Linked DNA regions of Homo sapiens. The protein of the gene in region 2 purifies or fractionates together with the protein of the main gene of each other region. This does not show direct contact. Each region holds a gene or a part of one and is shown on either strand. Other genes may lie near its edges. The genes, in order: LAPTM4B and NRROS.

Region 1 (3,818 bases), on a different chromosome or scaffold from region 2:
TACTGAGAAAATAACTTTTATCTGAGGGATGCAAGTCTTTATTATCAGGCCCAGAGAGACATTAAAACGATACAGCAATCACTTTCTACTCCCCCTCCCTTTTGAGCTATGTCTTCAACTGTTGAAACTGATTGCTATTGCCACAAGCAGCTGCAAATTAACCTAATAATGCATAGCTCAACAATGGATAGCCAATCACGAACCAATGTTGTTTCTGTAAATCAAGGACAATTCCTGACAAACAACTTTGTATCAGTACACTCCCTGTTCCCCCTTTCAGTCTTTAAAAATGCACTTATAACTGCTGCTAATCTGTGTGTACAGTCAGGGCAACGTCAGTCTATATTCTGGGGTTGCAATCCTCAAGCCTGGCCCAAATAAACTCTCTACTTACATTAATTTTGCCTCAGCTTCTTCCTTTTAGGTCGAAGTTAAATATATTTAAAGTGAATCCGAGAGTGATTGGTATTAATAAACAGTTTTGATAGCAATCTTTATTTATTGGCCACCTTGTCTGTAAAACATTCTAATGAACATTTACCATAAAAGTGTGATAAGAGGCTCAGGCCTGCAATCCCAGCACTTTGGGAGGCGGGCGGATCACCTGAGGTCAAGAGTTCTAGACCAGCCTGGTCAACATGGTGAAACCCCATCTCTACTAAATTAAGCCAGGCGTGGTGGCCTGCGCCTGTAATCCCATGTACTCGGGAGGCTGAGGCAAGAGAAGGGCTTGAACCCGGGAGGTGGAGGTTGCAGGGAACCGAGATGGCACCACTGCACTCCATCATGGGTGACAGAATGAAACTGCCTCAAAAAAAAAAAAAGTGTGATAAAAGCTTAAAAAGATATTGAATACCACTGAAATCTCCACCAACCAATGTTCTATAGAACTGCCCTTGATCCTTTATTAGATGAGGGGAAACCTGTACTTTAAAAATCCAATGTCCTTCCCTATCTAAATCTGTTCAATTCCTTAAATCAGATGGAGAAAACCTAGGTAGAAAGAGAGACTTGTATCACTCACTAACTGGTAAAAATTCCTATCCATCTTATTCATACCACTAAGAGCTGATACCCACTATAGTTTGTATCTAGAGAGCTATATATAACATACTGCCTGGTTTTCCAGCCATCTGAAACAGCCTGCCATTTTAATCTAACTTAAAAACTGCTTTCATTGGCCAGGCGTGGTGGCTCATGCCTGTAATCCCAACACTTTGGGAGGCTGAGGTGGGCAGATCACGAAGTCAGGAGATTGAGATCATCCTGGCTACCACGTTGAAACCTCATCTCTATTAAAAATAAAAAAATCAGCGGGGTGTGGTGGTGGGCGCCTGTAGTCCCAGCTACTCGAGAGGCTGAGGCAGGAGAATGGCTTGAACCCGGGAGGCAGAGCTTGCAGTGAGTGGAGATCCCACCACTGCACTCCAGCCTGGGTGACAGAGCGAGACTCCGTCTCAAAAAACAAAACAAAACAAAAACAACAACCAAAAAAAACTGCTTTCATCATATCGCTCCTGTTCATAATTCTTCAATGGTTCCCCACTGCCTACAGAATAAAATCCAAACTCTTTAGCCTACTATTTAGTCTTTTACAATCTAACATAGTGGGGAAAACACCAGGCAATAAAGATGACACAATTGCCACAAATCAGTCCGTTATTCTATCCTGAAATTACGGGCCAAGTCACAGAATCTGACAGTTGGAAAGAAGCTATTAATCTTAAAAGAACATATCACCACCTATCATGCGTGACCCAGGGTTGCTTTGAGGTCTAAATAAGAACAAATGTGAATGCCCACCGAAAGCTATCAATCACTCTACAAATACAGGATGTTGGTCTTACTATCCTGTACTCAGACAAATCAATAGTTGTTGAACTTCTCAGAATACAAAGAAAATCTATCAGGCTTGTGAAGGGGTGAAGAAAATTCTCCCCCTTCTACAACTTCTGAAGGTTTGATCATTTGAGTCTAATAAACAAACTGATAATAGATCAACAGCAAGAAACGGCATACAAATGTATTACGTGCACACGCATACGTGGGAGTCACAGAAATAAGAAAACTCAAAGGAAGGGCCAGATGGTTTAAGTTTTAATGTCTTTCTGAAGTTACAGAAAGAATAGGGGTTTAGATCACGGCAAAACAGGTTATGGGAGGGAGGGACGGAAAGGCCTGGCTAGGGAAGGTGGTCTTGTTATGCAAATGAGACCCCACAGGTAGAAGGCTTGAGAAAAGATACTTGGTAGCCTGTGGTATGTGGTAAACTTCTCTATTAGACCTTCAAAGGTGTCAGACTCTCAATCTCTCGGTTAATCTTTCCAAGGTCTGAACATGGGGGATGGGGTGGGGAGGTGTGCTCAGAGAAAGCCTGGCTGTTTATTTCACTAATGCAGATTTTCCCTAAAGATGCAAATCTCCACAAACAGCAGCTTTTCAGAGCTATTCTTGTTTGCAGTTTCTCTAATACTATCTTGAAATATACCAAAGAGGTATATTTTGGGTGAGATATTCTGGTTTCCTTTACTTGAGTAAACAAGGAAACTGTGAGTTTCTATGTGAACAAGTGGATTCTTTGAAAGACCAGGTCTGCACTTGTATCCCAGAACTTAAAGTATAATTAAAAAACAAAAGAAAAAGAAAGAAAGAAAATTAAAAAGAAAGACCAGGTCATAAAGCCAATGAAGCAGCTACTCTGACCTCTTTTATCCTTTATAATCTGATATATGGCTAACTACCCTGTGAACAGTGTCTGGCACAGAGGCATTTGGTATGTATTTGCTGTGTCTAAGTTCCTAAAAAATAACTGAACAAGGATATTTAAAAAAAAAAAAAAAAAAAGGCCGGGCGCGGTGGCTCACACTTGTAATCCCAACACTTTGGGAGGCCAAGGCGGGCAGATCACCTGAGGTCGGGAGTTTGAGACCAGCTTGACTAACATGGAGAAACCCCGTCTCTACTAAAAAATAAATAAATAAATAAATAAATAAATAAATAAATAAATAAAATACAAAATTAGCCAGGTATGGTGGTGCATGCCTGCAATCCCAGCTACTTTGGAGGCTGAAGCAGGAGAATCACTTGAACCCAAGAGGCGGAGGCTGCAGTGAGCCGAGACTGCACCACTGCACTCCAGCCTGGGCAACAAGAGCGAGACTCCGTCTCAGAAAAAAAAAAAGGCTGGGGACGGTGGCTCACGCCCGTAATCCCAGCACTTTGGGAGGCCGAAGCAGGTGGATCAGGAGGTCAGGAGTTCGAGACAAGCCTGACCAACATGGTGAAACCCCGTCTCTACCAAAAATAAAAAATTAGCCAGGGATGGTGGCGCATGCCTGTAGTACCAGCTACTCAGGAGACTGAGGCAGGAGAATCGCTTGAACCCGGGAGGCAGACGTTGCAGTGAGCTGAGACTGCGCCACTGCACTCCAGCCTGGACAACAGAGTGAGGCTCTGTCTCAAAAACAAAAGCCTGGAGTGGTGTGGAGTGGTGGTGTGAGCCTGTAGTCCCAGCTACTTGGGAGGCTGAAATGGCAAGGCTGCTTGAGCCAGGGAAGACAAGGCTGCATTGAGCCACTCCAGCCTGGGCAATAGAGTGAGATCTTGTCACAAAAAAAAAAAAAAAAAAAAAAAAAAAGCTGGGCATGGTGGCTCAGGCCTGTAATCCCAGCACTTTGGGAGGCTGAGGGGAGCAGATCACCAGAGGTCGGGAGTTCGAGACCAGCCTGACCAACATGGAGAAATCCTGTTATCTACTAAAAATACAAAATTAAACAGGTGTGGTGGCGCATGCCTGTAATCCCAGCTACTAGGGAGGC
Region 2 (3,818 bases):
GTGTCTGCCCTCCCATCTTCTCCTGGGCCAGCGGCACCAGCTCACCCCACCTGCTCGCTCCAGCCACTCAGGGGCCTCCTCTTTCCTTTCTTCAAATGCATTTAGGGATCTTGAAAGCTCATTTTACCTTCTTGATCAGATTTGAATGCTCACCAGTGCAAACAGACTAATTGAAGAGCTCAATGAAACCGGGTAAGCCAGCTTTCACTTCAGGCCAGGCCAACTCCCCTTACTACAGAGAGAACCTCCAATGCAGAATTTACCAGAACTTGCCAGACACTGGGAATCCCCTTCCAGACCCATTTCTGCCTCTGCACCCACACAGGAGTCATTGCCTTGTGGCCGGCACAGGGAAGAGAGGGCAGAAGCAGAGGTGTACGGGTTCCTGACCTCAGGATCCCCCCAGCACCCTTCCCCGCCCCTGAAACCTGGGATCACCACCACTGCCCGCCATGAAATAAGGCTGCATAGTTGCAGATTTAGTAAATTACAAGGCATCATTTCAATGCTAGATACATCCTTATACTAACAAATTGTTTATCTGACATTCAAACTTCACTGGGCATCCTGAATTTTACTGAGGGGAGATGGGGAGGTAAGAACCCTCCCTTCCTCCCTGGCCACCTCTTGTCAGGTGTGGGGTGGTACCTGCTGCTGTGACTCCAGTCTCTCTGGAAGAGCCAGCCCTGCGTATCGAAGAACTGAATCTAGACGTGTAAGGGGCAAGAGTGCAGGTCCCTCAGCGAAAAGGCAACCTTCAGACTGGAAGGCAAGCCAGGCCTTGTGTCACACTCAGGAGGGGCATTTTAATTTATGGGTCATCAAGAATTTTGCAAGTTTAAAACATATCCTCTCCTTCCTCCTAAACTCAGCCAACCAGCCCAGAAAAAAACTCTTGTTGTGGCCCTGGCAGGAAGCAGCAGGATATCATGGGAAGATCATGGAATTTGGAACCAAGCAGACCAGAGTTTGAATTCTGCCTCTGTTATTTGTTATTTGTCCTTTAGGAATTCAGACAAAGTCTCCAAGACTCAGAGAATCCGTCTACAAAATGGGAGTAATAATAACTATTCCAGAGTTGCATGAGAATAACCAGTCTCATGAATGTGAAAGGGCTTCATGGCTGTAAAGGTAGCAAGTAACACAATTATTAATTATTACTTGTGAGTTCCAAACACCAGTGAGTTGACTGAGTGCTGGTTATTCCTGTGTAATCTCCAAGGTAGTTCAACAGCTACACAAAGTCTAAAATAAAGGCCTGAGTAATGTGGCTGGAAGGATGAATTATACCAACTAGATATGTAAAACATATGCAGGAAGGTTCAATTAAAAACTCTGCATTCATAAATTGCAGAGCAAGGCTAGCCCTGAGCACAGATGACTATGCTGGCTGACAGCGGTTTGTCCCCAGAGCTGCGCCTTCCCCTTCCCTGCCCTCCTCAGTGTGGCAGGGCTCTGACTTCTGAAGGTTCTGAATCTCAAACTCTGCTGTCACCTGGCCTCAAACTGCTGTCACCTGTCACAAACTCTGCTGGTTTAGTCAATGGAAGACACTCCTCCTGGGAGGTCAGACAGTAGAGGGCAGAAAGAATCCAGCATACTTCTCTCCCTTCCTCTCTGCCTTGGACAGAGACATCCTAGAGTTTCTTCCGCTGACCCCTAGGCTCTGGTGACACCACCTCCTCCTCTTTGTTTTTGTTCGTTTTGTTTTGTTTTTTGAGACGGAGTTTTGCTCTTGTTGCCCAGGTTGGAGTACAATGTTGTGATCTCGCCTCACTGCAAACTCCACCTCCCGGGTTCAACAATTCTCCTGCCTCAGCCTCCCAAGTAGCTGGGATTACAGGTGCACGCCACCACGCCTGGCTAATTTTTGTATTTTTAGTAGAGATGAGGTTCCACCATGTTGGCCAGGCTGGTCTCAATCTCATGACCTCAGGTGATCTGCCCGCCTTGACCTCCCAAAGTGATGGGATTACAGGCGTGAGTCATGGTGCCTGGCCCACCTTCTCCTCTTGTCCTCACCCTACCTAGGTGAGGATAAGAAGCTTCCTGAAGCTGCTCGTCGCTGTGTTGACTGTTTATTTGCTTTCTCAGCCTTTTCCACCATGTGTTGCCACTTTCTTGCATTAAATATCCTCTGTCTTAAATAATCTGGGCAGTTTCCGTTTCCTGGTTGGACCCTGACTAATACAATCATGTGAGAATGGCCAAGACCCAGTGCTAAATTAAAAGTATGTAATGACTGTAAAGAAATAAAAGGCTTTCAAAATAGTGACCATTGAGGTTGAGAAACACTCTTCGTAGAGTGTGTAGCTGCAGAGAGCTTCCTCAGAGCCATGGCACTGCAAAGAGTCCAAGATAAACAATCCTCTTGCCATATCTCTCTGCAAAATCCCGTGACTCATCCCCTGCATGCACAGGACTGCTTCCTCTCCTCCCACATCCTCAGGGCTGAGGACCACGCCACAGCATCTGCAGCTGTAAGAGGGCATCTAAGCCAGAGTGTGCCCAGCATGCAGGAACAGGTGGAAAGCCCAGCCGCTTCCCGAGGGGCTGCCAGCTGGTGAGTGTTCCTGGGACCCTGAGCTGCCTGTTGCTCCTGTCTGGACAAGGTTTGGCCCATTTGGAACACTGCTGCATTCTAACTAGTTATCATGGAATGCTGTGAGTCTACTCCATAGCCAACCTTGTCTATGAAGATGTGGTGTTGCTTTTTAGGCAGAGAAGACAACGTGGTTTTCTGCCTCCAGACCTGGTCATAGTAAGAAAGTGGTAAAAAGATTCATTCATAAAAACAACATGAATGGAGGTTGTATTCTGCAACAAGAGAATGCTGACAGTGAGGAAGAAGAACGTACAGCCGCTGCAAAGAGTCTCCTTTGTTTTAGAAATTATGTTTGTTGCGAACAGGTGCGGTGGCTTACGCCTGTAATCCCAGCACTTTGGGAGGCCAAGGAGTGGGGGGTCACTGGGTCTCAGGAGTTCGAGACCAGCCTGAGCAAGGTGGCAAAACCCTGCCTCTCTAAAAAAAATACAAAAATGGCCGGGCGCAGTGGCTCACTCCTGTAATCCCAGCACTTTGGGAGGCCGAGGCAGGTGGATCACCTGAGGTCAGGAGTTTGAGACCAGCCTGGCCAACCTGGTGAAACCCTGTCTCTACTAAAAATACAAAAATTAGCTGGGCGTGGTGGCGGATGCCTGTAATCCCAGCTACTCGGGAGGCTGAGGCAGGACAATCGAACCTGGGAGGTGGAGGCTGCAGTGAGCAGAGATCTCGCTATTGCACTCCAACCTGGGCAGCAGAGCGAGACTCTGTCTCTAAAAAAAGAAATGCTACAGAGTAGCTCAGATCTGAATTTTGCTATTGTTTTGTTTTTAGAAAAGGATGCTGGATTTCTACTATTCAGGTGCACGCTGGATATCTGAATTGTTATCCCGGCCAGAGTGACGGCCTCTCCTTGTTGGAGCTGCTCGGACACCTTACCGTCCCCACCCCCACCTCCCCTGACTGCTACTACGTGAGCAGCTGCTGCCAGAGCTGGGACCGGACCCTCTCCGCTAAAGGGGCTCTGAGCAAGTGCCATACGTATGTTACCACGTAGTTAAGAATTTTCTCCTCAAAGTAATCAGAGAAGCTGAAAAAGCTTTACGGAAAGAGGTCTCCTGGAGAAAGTGGGCAGCTCTCGGGGCACTCTGTGCTAGAAACAAATATTTTGGCCGGGCGCAGTGGCTCACGCCTGTAATCCCAGCACTTTGGGAGGCCGAGGCGGGTGATCACGAGGTCAGGAGATCGAGACCATCCTGGCTAACACAGTGAA

The links.
Region 1: the proteins of NRROS (region 2) and LAPTM4B purify together in Homo sapiens (affinity purification with mass spectrometry; one large-scale study listed by BioGRID and IntAct). This does not show direct contact.

Annotation. Positions count from the first base shown.
Region 1 is NC_000008.11:97,782,099-97,785,916, reverse strand, and holds part of LAPTM4B (lysosomal-associated transmembrane protein 4B), read right to left. Parts: intron 1-3,818. UniProt on the Homo sapiens protein: Required for optimal lysosomal function. Blocks EGF-stimulated EGFR intraluminal sorting and degradation.
Region 2 is NC_000003.12:196,649,667-196,653,484, reverse strand, and holds part of NRROS (transforming growth factor beta activator LRRC33 precursor), read right to left. Parts: intron 1-3,818. UniProt on the Homo sapiens protein: Key regulator of transforming growth factor beta-1 (TGFB1) specifically required for microglia function in the nervous system.